3 linked regions of the Homo sapiens genome follow. The protein of the gene in region 1 interacts with the protein of each later gene in a pairwise test. Each region holds a gene or a part of one and is shown in the gene's direction. Other genes may lie near its edges. The genes, in order: ZBTB16, MID2 and FAM217B.

Evidence for each region.
Region 2: the proteins of ZBTB16 (region 1) and MID2 interact in binary tests that used the Homo sapiens proteins (3 or more experiments, as listed by UniProt).
Region 3: the proteins of ZBTB16 (region 1) and FAM217B interact in binary tests that used the Homo sapiens proteins (3 or more experiments, as listed by UniProt).

Annotation. Positions count from the first base shown.
Region 1 is NC_000011.10:114,237,659-114,241,408, forward strand, and holds part of ZBTB16 (zinc finger and BTB domain-containing protein 16), read left to right. Parts: intron 1-3,750. UniProt on the Homo sapiens protein: Acts as a transcriptional repressor. Transcriptional repression may be mediated through recruitment of histone deacetylases to target promoters. May play a role in myeloid maturation and in the development and/or maintenance of other differentiated tissues.
Region 2 is NC_000023.11:107,926,845-107,930,594, forward strand, and holds part of MID2 (probable E3 ubiquitin-protein ligase MID2), read left to right. Parts: coding exon 1-229; 3' UTR 230-3,750. UniProt on the Homo sapiens protein: E3 ubiquitin ligase that plays a role in microtubule stabilization. Mediates the 'Lys-48'-linked polyubiquitination of LRRK2 to drive its localization to microtubules and its proteasomal degradation in neurons.
Region 3 is NC_000020.11:59,938,319-59,942,068, forward strand, and holds the start of FAM217B (protein FAM217B), read left to right. Parts: upstream 1-2,070; 5' UTR 2,071-2,217; intron 2,218-3,750. Other genes in the region: PPP1R3D (protein phosphatase 1 regulatory subunit 3D), read right to left, coding at 714-1,613.

The DNA of each region.
Region 1 (3,750 bases):
AATCTCCCAGTGTAATAGAATCTGCCCTGACTCATCATACATGCGAACAATCAGCTAGGCTGAAACGCCAGCAAATTGTTTAATAACTCACATCTAGTCTCTAGATTTTTAACTCGCATGCACCAATAGCTTTTCTTGTGTCTCATCCACATCTCCCCCACTTTTCCATTTTTTTAAAAATACTTTTCTATCATCATAGCTGTTAGTTTCTAAGCAGAAAAATGGGGAAAGTGGATGCTGAGTCTCAGAGGCTCCCCTTTCTTCCCCTGGGAGCCTTGGTTGGTGGATACGTGACCAAGGAGCACCCCTGCACCTTGTGGAATGTCCCAGGAAGGGGAGAGAGACCACTGTAGGGACATCATAGTGTTTCCTTTCCAGCTGGTGACCATATGACTTCCAGCCTGTTGGCCAGTTGTGGAACTGGCCATCTGGGATTTTTTGCGTGCCACTCCTCCCTTGCTGTCCCACCTTTCTAGGATTTTCTCTCTCCCTTTGCCCTGGCAGCCTCTGCCCTGGTCTGGTCCCTACCCTCCTCCAGTGGCCCATCAGCCCTCTCGCTGCTTCTAACCGCTTGCTGCTGCTGTTGGTCCCCATGTGTGCCCAGAGTCACTGGCTTCAAACACAGGTCAGATCGTGCTAGCACCACTCGTCTTAGTCAAGTCAGGCTGCTATAACAAACTGCCACGGACTGGGTGGCTTATACACAGCAGACATGCATTTCTCACAGCTCTGGAGGCTGGGAAGTCTGTGATTGGGGTGCCAGCATGTTCAGGTTCTGGTGAGGGTCCTCCTCCTGGTTGCAGACTGCTGATTTCTCGGTGTCCTCACGTGGTGGAAGGGGCTAGCTAGCTCTCTGGGCCCTCTTTTACAAGGACACTCATTCCATTTTAATTACCTAATTATCTCTCCCAGGCCCCACTTCCTAATACCATCACCTTAGGGGTTAGGATTTCAAAAAAGGAATCAGAGGGGGACCCAGACATTAGGATCATAGCAACCCTCGGTCCTTTCATGGCACTGCATTGCCTGTAGAATAAAGTCCAACCTGTCCTGCCTGGCATATGCAGCCCTCTGATCTGACTCCCATCACCCTCCCAGCTTGTCTCCATCCCCAGGGCCTGACCTTGGCCCCATCTGCTCTGACATTTGCCAGTGGTGTCTCTCTCCTTAGCCTGGCACATGTGTCCCAACTTCTTGTCCTTTGCTTCTCAGATACTCAACTTTTAAAAGCCTAACTCAAAATCTCAGGAGCTCTTGGAGTCGCCCTGCCTTACCCTCTGGGTGGTTGTTAACTCAGCATCTCCCACTAGTCTGGGACCCAGTTTCTCTGCTCAGCCTTAGCCTGCCCCTGGTCACCTAGCACAGTGCCTGTACTTGGTAGTGGCTCAGTGAGTTGGCTGAATGGACATGAAGTGGGTTCAGGCCACCCTGAGAAGTAGGGACAGCATAGTGGGGCAGTATCGAGGGGCCTTGGAAAGGCCAAGGGGGCAGAGTGCTGCAGTCTGCCTTGCTGGGTGTATTGACACTCAGAGCACCTGTGGGTCTGGCTGTATAGGCTGAGATGTCCTATTGGGAATGCCATTCATGTTCCCTCTGCCCAGGTTCCTTCCATGCCGGGGATCTCAGAGGATGCATAAGGAGAAGCCTTGGCTCTTAAAGGGCATGGCTGGCCTCCAAAGCCTACTCAACCCTACTGATTTAAGGTAGCTGTTTGAACACCTGGCTTAATTTGGGCTCTCTGTGGGGTGGGGGTTAAGGGCAGAGAGGGAGTAGATGCTGGGGGCTCTCAAGTTGAAGGAGTGGGGGCCACCGGGCACAGAACGCATTGCAGATGCACTGTCCTCCTGTGTACGTCGGCCAAGCAGGGAGGGACATTGAAGACTCACTGTCAACTCTTGGCATTGCTTCTGTCCAGAAAGATACATCTCTCATTATGTCTCCCTCCAGCAAGTGAAGCTGAGTAGACTACTCAGCATTTCTGAGAGACCTTGGTGGCTCCCAGTGGGATTGGAAGGCCTCAGAGAGCTATGCCTTGTGACCCAGCCCCAGCTACTGCCCACTCCTGGCCAGGGGTTCTCTAGCCATTGCTGGAGCTGTACTAGAGGCAGGAGTCCTCTGTACCATCCTTACTGGGCCTCTTCCAGGGTAAGCCCAGACAGGCGGGCAGTCAGCTCCAGAGGTAGCATTGAGTCCAGCCCCGTGGTTTCTGAAAGACAAACCGAGATATTTTCAGATCCCAACTCTGCCTCTTTCTGTGTGATCTTAGGCAAGTTATTTAATCTCTCTTTTACACTGGTAAAAAGGGGGATAAGAATGCCTGCCTTGTAGGATTGCAAGTTTTAAATGAACTGACAACATAGATAAGGTACCTAGCATAACGCCTAGATTCGCTCCCCTTCCTTCCTGCTTTTTGTTGGCCAGGAGCAAAATCCTGTGCTGGCTGTTTTTCTCCTTCCCTGCTCAGCCTTCCTGACTGCTGGTGAGATGGGGCGTGGCTCCAGGTGCTTAGACTTCAGTGTCTGCAAAGGGAAGGGATATCAGGGTGGGTGTGAGGGGCACAGAAGTGTGGGGGACAGTGAGAGGTGGGCCTTGCCTGCCTACTAGTCCATCCTAACCCAGCCATGAGTGGGACGGAGGTGGTGAGGACCAGACCTCTCACTTGCTATCTCCATTGATGGCCAGGAAGGCAGGGAGGTTCTTCGTGCCATCCCTTCTCTTCCCCCTACCTTCCACCAGACACTTCCCGATTCCATGCTGAGCAGCCCATGGCTTCCAGCAGCCAAAGCTTTACCCCCTCCCCCCACCCACTCTGGACTGGACTGACAGATGCTAGGCCTACTTACGTTTCCTGCTTGTGCCTTCCCACACAGGGGACAGCGGTGTGGGGCCAAGTGCAGGTGATATTGCCCAGGCACCAGCACAGAGACACACAGATGGGCCTGCCGGGGAGCTCCTGTGCTCAGGAAAACAGAGCCCAAAAGGGTGGGCACTGAGCTGCCAGTTAGGACTCAGACACAAGGTCAGATACTTCCTCCTGTGGTGCTGCAGCTGGAAATTTCGGCCATGGCTCCAGAGCAGTGTCAGAAAGGGATTGGTAACAAACAGAAAATGGCAGCCTGTATGTGTGGGGTACTTTGGGGATGAACAGCCAGTTAGAATTAAATGAAAATCTCACATCACTCGCTAGCTTTCAATCCTTTGACAGTTGCCCATCGGGTTTAGGATGGAACTAAATCTCTTGACGTGGTTTGCAAGACCCTGCATGGCCTGGCCCTTGCCTTTCCCTTTAGCCTCCTCTTCTTCCCCAGCTGCACTGCACCATTCCTCTGTCTGATCCTCCCACCGGCCATGTTTCCTCCTGGCCCAGAGTGTTCACAGACACTATTCCATCTTCCGGATTCCGCCATTCACCTGGTGTTCTGGGTAACGTCGGTCATGAGAGCAGGGACTTTGCATGCTCTTCCTTGGTTATATCCCCAGTGCCAAAAAGACAGCCTTGCTTGTAGAAGGCATCAAATAATACTTGTTGAGTGAATGGACCTAAGATTCATGCTTTAGTGAGTGGAGAAGTAGTTAAAAAAAAAAAACAAAACAGGATCTGTAGCTAGTCTTGGGAAAGCATTAAAATCTAGGGTGTGTGAGTGTGAACCCCAGCCCTGCCACTTACGAACTCTATGGCAGGAGTCCCCAACCCCCGGGCCATGGTCTGTGAGGAGCTGGGCTGCACAGCAGGAGGCGAGCGAGTGAAAC
Region 2 (3,750 bases), on another chromosome or scaffold:
TGACAACAATATGCTGTCTTTCTATGACCCAGCTAACTCTCTCCATCTTCATACTTTTGATGTGACCTTCATTCTTCCAGTTTGTCCAACATTTACAATCTGGAACAAATCCCTAATGATCCTGTCTGGCTTGCCTGCCCCAGATTTTATTGATTACCCTGAGCGGCAGGAATGCAACTGCAGGCCTCAAGAATCCCCTTATGTTTCTGGGATGAAAACCTGTCATTAAGTTTCAGGAGAGTATATAATTCACTGGCTCTCTAGTTCAGCAGTTCTTCCCCTCCTACACCTAAGTTAGCGTTCAATATACGAGACACAAAATAAAGTTTGTTTGAAGCATCCAAAATAACTAGATATTGCAGATTTAATTTTTGTGCATTAAAGCTTGTATTTGAATTAATTTATTGAGTTTTTCAGAACAAATTATCTGAGTAGTCTGCGTTCAAGCCATTGGAGAAAAATTTAGAAAATGCCTCTGTTGTCATTGGAGAATTAAAAATTCCCAATGATTTAAGAATATAAATTATATTGGAAGCAATTAGGGTAATTCTAGTTAAATAATGTGGAAAGGTGCCCTGAATAAGGAGCTAGCAAGCCAGAGCGGGGGGTGGTCAGCCTTTCTAGTACTGGCCAGTTTGGCCATGTAGAATTTTGAACAGTGTCAAATTATCACATATTATATTTTACTTTTGATGAAAACCTATCATCAAGGGTTTGTTAGGAAACCATGAATGTGTATATGTAATATATAAAGTGAACATATATGTACTTTATATATATTCACTTGTGTATGTATGTTTATGCATATTCACTTTATATATTACATATACACAAAAAACTTTTTTTTCCAAACACCACCTCGAACTAGAACAAAAAACTTTTTAATTTGCTAATTTGAGTGAGAAATATACTGGAAGGGAAAATAAGTTACACCATCCATTTTTGTCCCCTAAAGGAAACATCAAAATCAATCAACATTTATTTCCTCCCTCTATCCATCATTGCCTTCCTCCCTCCTGTCACGCACACATACACATGCAACCATGACACAGATAATGGGAAGAGCTTTATTGGATTAGCAGAGATTTACAGACAAGATTGCACAAGAGATGCTGTTGCTGGATAGAAAATTGATCAGGTAGAAGTGATGCTACCTACTTGAGGATGGCCATCTGAATTGTTAAAAATTCTGTCATAGACTATTAAAAAAAAAGTTTTACTACTCCCAAGTACACACAGTTATGAGAATTAGGCTTTTAAAAAGTTGCACAGTGAAGGCTCTTTAGGAACCTACTTTACTTAATCAGTAAAAATTGAGTATTATTGATGCACCAACTATTCCCATATAAATGTACTTGCTTTTTCAGATAAAACACTTCTGAAGTGCTCAAGAATGTCTGAAAACAGTTTGTTTTCTTAAATAGGATAAATAATCATTCCTTTTGCAATCTTGTTTACAGTATTCATTCTCTTAGCCAATCCCTCCACGCAAATGGAGACAAACTTCATCCCAGTCCTAACCAGTATAGTTGAAGGGAATGGAGCCTTGTAGTCTATGATTTTTTTTTTTAAATTTCCATCGAAGGGATTGGGGATGTCAGAGAGCCAGAGCTTTCCCCTTTCCAGGAGCTAAGTTGGCTTCGGAAGTCTTCTGGGATTTGTGAAAATATTACTGTTGTAAAATTACAAAGTGGTAGCCATAACAACTCCCTCAGATTGGAGACTTGAAATGTCAAAACTCCCCTCTTCCTTTCCCCTAGTTTGGTGGATGCTCATTTATTAATTCATTCAATAAACTATTAGATGCCAGGTACCAAACTACTGCCATGGGAGTGCACATATTAACAAAATGCTCTACCTGCTGCCAAATGGCTTACTATTCTGTGGAAGAAACAAAGTATATAATCCTCCCCAATAACAGTTATGTATTGTTTGTTCACTTAATGTGGAAGGCAAGACTGATGCAGACACACAAGGAAGGCTCAAAAATATAAATCTAGCAGCAATGTCATCTTTTTTGATTTTAAATACCATATGTGCTTACTGCTAATCAGGAAATGAACAACCTCAGTAAAATTCATCAGTGCTGGTAAATAGTTTGCTGTAGTGGAAAGCTCATAACCTTTGGATTCAAATGATCCTAGTTTCTGTACCATTTATTAGCGTTGTGACCTAGGACAAGTACCTCACTTCTCTGAGCCTGTTTCCTCCTCTGTAAAATAATGTCTACTTCACAAGGCTGTTTCAAAGGTTAAAAAAGATAGCATATGTAAACTGTCTTAGCTCAGCGCTTGACATTTCCTAAGTGTGCCATAAATATTAATCTCTTTCCTTACTCCCAGCTCCAATACAGCGTAACAGTGCTTTAAAATGTATGTCCTTCATTTCTCCTTCATTTCTCAGTCACCTTTGTCTCTTCCCTAGGGCATATCCCCAAATTCTTAAACAAAAAAAAATGATTTTTTTCCCCTTCATCAAACTTTTCACTGGCTCCCTTAGCACCCAGTAGAAGGTCCCAACTCCTTACAGAGTCTGGGTTTTCATGTCCCTGTTTGCTTACACAGCTTAATCTTTTGCCACTTTCCCCCTCACATTGATTAAGGTAGCCAAGTTTAACTATTTACACAACTATTCACACAAGTTATTCTCTGGGCCTGCAGCAGAAACATGATTAACAATTTTAATGCCCAGAGTAAACAACAGAAATTTTTCTTAAATTAAAGGAATAGTGTGAAAATGCTGTAAGTACAGAAAATGCAACCTCCATTCCAGTAGAACAATTTCCTTTGCCTTGTCCTTGGCTCTCCAAAACTGTTCATTTATTGTGGTGTCTTTTAGATTTTAGTGCCCTGGGACAAAGATCTAATTTCCCCACCCTACTTTTGACTCTATCCTGGACTACCTTTCCTCACCTCTATCTCTCTCAACCAGACTAACTCTTTATTCCTTAGACTTGATGATGCATCCCTCTTTAGAGATCCAAAGACACCCCAAGCATCCCCCTCTCTCAGCAATAATCACATTGTATAGCAGTGTTTTTCAAAGTGTGGTCCTCACACCGCCTGTGTTAGAATCACCTTTAGTGTTTGTTAAAAGAATTGATTTTGGGTTCCCACTCCTGACCTAACCAGAATATCTGAGAACATAGGCAGGAATTTACATTTTTGACAAGCTCCTCATGATTCTGATGCACCAAAAATTTTAATGAATAATCATCTTCCCTACTAGACTGAACACCTTGAGAGGAAGGACTGTGTCTTTTATTGTTGTTATATTGTTAATACCTGGCACAGTGCTTGGAACATTAGCTTGGCTAATGTTTATTGAATGAATGTATGAATGAAAAAATGCATTATGAAAGTTTCCTCTTGTACTCTCATGTTCGTAGTGATGTTTGTTACTTCCTGGGCAGAAAAGCTTGGTTACTACTCCATTTGAGCTGTATTAATTCTATTTTGCAGAGATATCAAGGCTCCTACATAATAAATGATCATTGTCCTCCTCAAAAACTCTTTGGCAGTTATCTTGGGGAAATGTCTTTGGAGCATATGGCACCATTGTTTTCAGTAACATTTCAGTCTTGTCAAACTTTGTTGTTTGAAGGTGGATTTACATTTCGGTTATAGCCAAAAATCACTCAAAGCTAAGCCTACTTAAAAAAGTGGGGAATTAAACTGGGTTTGGAGTAAGCAATGAAGTTTGACTCTGAAGTCCCAAATTCTGAGTCAAACAGTGAAAAATGACTTCTAA
Region 3 (3,750 bases), on another chromosome or scaffold:
TCCTCCCCAGCTGTTAATGTAGGAGACACACAGCCTAACCAGGACAGTCTCAATGCCCAGGAATGGTTGTGTGATGACTGATAAAGCAGAAATTTCTTGCCTATTAATAGTTTCCCACTGTTAGAAGGCTACAGCCGTTGGCAATCAGATGTGGGCTCAGGTTTTCCTTATCCTGGGGCAGGAATGCCTGGAGGGACCACGATGTGGGTCACACTGTACATTCTGTTTACTGTGGGCACAAACACAGAACTTTTTTTTTTTAGCTTATTAAATCGAGAATATTCCTGAGGAGGCATCCGCTATGGGCTAAAGGTCCCAACATCACAATAATAAATAACAGCTATGTTTACAGAGACACATTCAGGACACATGCAAAAGCTTTTCCTAGCAGGAGGACTTGGGCCTTTGCAAAACAAGCTGCTTGGGCCTCCCCAGAGGGCCCACCCTCCCATGCACCTACCCCACCACCCTGCCCCAACTCATTACACAACTCGGCCTTCTGGCCACCTGAGGCTACTTTTTAGACCAAGTGACTCAGACGTTTCAAGTAGAAGACAGGATGGGCCACTGCCAGGGGACCTTGCAGCAGAAAATTAGGTCAGAGGACTTGGAGGGTGGTGAAGAACAACCAGATAGATGTGAGAGCCCAGCAGGGAAATGACAGGAGGCGCAGCTTAGGTGTGGAGGCTCCAGGTGGCCGGTCCCCGCGCGGCTCAGATGAAGTGGATCCAGCTCTCTTCGCACTCCCCGCGAGGCATGTGCAGCGCGTGGTTGCGACATGTGAGGCTGTAGTCTCGGTGGTCGTTGTTGTCCCAGTACTCGGCACCCGCCACTTGGTAGCGCACCGCGAAGTGCACGCGGGAGCCGAGCTCCAGCAGGAAGGGCGGTACTGGAAAGCCGAAGGTGAAAACGTCCTCCGTGCCCTCGGGGCCTGCGGGCCCGCGCCACCGCGCCACCGCCTCGTGGGTACTGCGCCAGCCCGAGAAAGTGTAGCGCACAGCCACCTGCTTCTCGAAGGCCACGTTGCACACGCGCACCGTACCGCTGATGCCAAGGTCCGAGCAAGTGACACGCTCCAGGCACACGAGCTGCCGCTGCAGGCGCTCGCCAAAGTCGGCGGCCTCGACGGGCGGCGGGAAATCGGGCACCAGGCAATGCAGGGTGAACTCCAGGTCCTGGCTGCTGCAGCACAGGTCCGAGTTGATTGCGAGCCGCGACAGCACGTGCAGCGGCACGGACGGGTCGTCTCCCGCGTTGAACACCTTGACCTGTGCCAGCTCCAAGCCCAGGGCGTCGGCGAAGCGCACGCGGAGCTTCTGGCTGCAGCCCGGCCGACACGCAGCGCCCGGCGCGCCCGCGGCCTTCTGGCGGCGCTCGGGGGAGCTGGGCAGTGAGCGCGCCCGCCGCAGGATGATGGGCCGCAGGCGGGGGTCGCAGCCCGACGGCGCTGGCGTTGGCGGCGGCGCGCGGCCCGGGCTCCCAGGGGGCCTACAGGCCCGCGGCTCCAGGGCCACGCCGCCGTCCAGGTCCGACAGGCAGCTGAGGCTCCGGGGGCCGAGCTTCCGGGATCCCAGGGCGCTAGGCAGGACCGCGGAGCTCGGGCCTCTGGACATGGCCCCGCCGGCCGTCGGAAGATGAGGCAGGGATGAGAGACGACCTCCCGACCCCGCGACAGCTCCCTCCGTGCTCAGAAGCCGCAGAGAGTCCACCGTATCTGCAACCTGCGGGGGACCTCTCGGGCCCGGTGCGCCCTACCCTTGGTTCGCCACCTTGCTCCTCGAGTCCTTGTCCAGGTCCTCCGCTTCTTGCGGTTAAAGAAATTGTAAGAGTGGGGAGTTTTTCTCTAGTGGAAGCTTTCAGAGGCCTCCCGGGAGCGCAGGGTAGCGCCTCTTTTTTCTTCTTGCTTCCTTGGAGGTTCTTACAAGAAGGCTGCGTTCCGGGAGCGGCCCCTCCCACTTTCCCGGTCCGCGGCGTTACTTACAAGGCTGCAACTTGACCGGGTGCAACTTCCTAGCGAGCCTCCGCCCCGCCCCTCGTGACGCCGCCTGCAGGCGGGCCCCCGCCGGCCTCAGCTCAGCCAGGGAGCTCAGCGGAGCTGCGCGCCTCCGCCTCCAGCTCCCCTGCCGCAGCGCGCCGCAGCCGGGCGTCCCCGCGCGGGCGCCGGAGAGGAAGGAAGGCTGGCAGCCTCGTCACGTGTCCGCTGCAGTCGCGAAACAGGTCTGATCAATTTCTGTTTACGTCTGCCTGGATTGCGCGCCTATCGATCATAGACTTTGTCTGCACAAACGGAGGACAAGGAAAATGCATGCTGCGTGTCCTTAGATTTCTGGGTTGTGGATGGGGGGAGCGGTGGTGCAAAAACCGGCCTTGCCAGGAGCTGGTCTCAGGCTAATTTTAAACATCGAGGCCAGCCCACACTTTGGACAGGTTCACTGCAACCTGGACCCTTGGTCAGACCGAGGGAGCCTCACTGCGTAGAGGAGCAGCGTCATGTCCACATCACCCAGAATGCTTTGCCGCACCGAATGGCCAGCAGATTCCCTTGAGGGTGGGGAGGGGAGGTGCTGCTGTTGTCTTCCTGGACTCCGCGCCAGAGAGGAAGACAGGGGAACAAGAGTTATTACCCGCTGATGACTTCTGCAGCTGCCCTTAATCAGCCTCTGGCGCTTGGGGAGCATATTTGTAGCCAGAATCTCCGACTTTTAGCTTTGTTTCCAAGCAAGCCAGAAACACCAGCAAGGCCTGGAGCTTGTTTTCTGCCTATTTAGAACCCTGCAGGCATTCGTGTCTCTCACCCGGTAGCTTTGAGCACAAAACCCCACAGCCTTTGGTGTAAAGCATACCAGGTGAAATGAAGTAGAAAAGATGCAAGTGCACTTTCCAGAGAGCAGTTTGGGGCCAGCCATTCCATTAAGAAGGTTCCTTTTTATTGTCCAGAGGGACAAAGCAGAAAGAAAACCAGACTAATGAAAGGGGGTTGATTCAAGAACATTCGTTGCATCTAAAATGAGTCAAGGCTGTTGATTGTGGTATAATTCATGAAATGTGAGAGAATGATTTTATTTATCATTGGATGTAAGCTAACTAAAAAGGCTTACATGATTAATGTGGGAAAAATACAGGAAAGTTTCAGGAAGAAAATAAAAATCTTCTATAATCATCTCTTTTATTTTACAGAGACAGGTGATACGGGAAAGAGAAGTATCCAATTTCCATTCAGTGCACTTTTAATAGGCCACTCAAAATGAGAGGGGAATAACAGCAATATGTGGTATAGGTCAACAATGCTTCATAAAGAGATGATATATAATATGTAATATGTATGAATATATGGAAAGTCTTATAATGGATTGATGTGATAGAGAAGGCCGAAAAATTGAATGGGAACGTTCCTCCTAGAGTTTAAGCTCCTTCTGAACAGGGACGTGCATAATCATTGCCATTTTTCTGGGTACTCCTGTAATTATTTGTTGCATGAATGAATGATTGGGCAATGCAATGATTGAACGCTGTAATAAGACCTGACCTTATTTAGCCTTCCAGATTTCTTCAACATATTATTTCCAAGGAAGATTATACCTGTGTGTGAACAGGGAGAGAGAGAGAGAGATGGAATCCATTCACAGTATTTATAGTAGTGTGATCCTGTGATCCTGTCTCTAATATCTACTGTAATAAGCAGAAAAGACAAAGCTGTAAGCATAAGACAATGTCTCCCTTCCCCAGTATTTCATAACCTAGAGTGCAAAC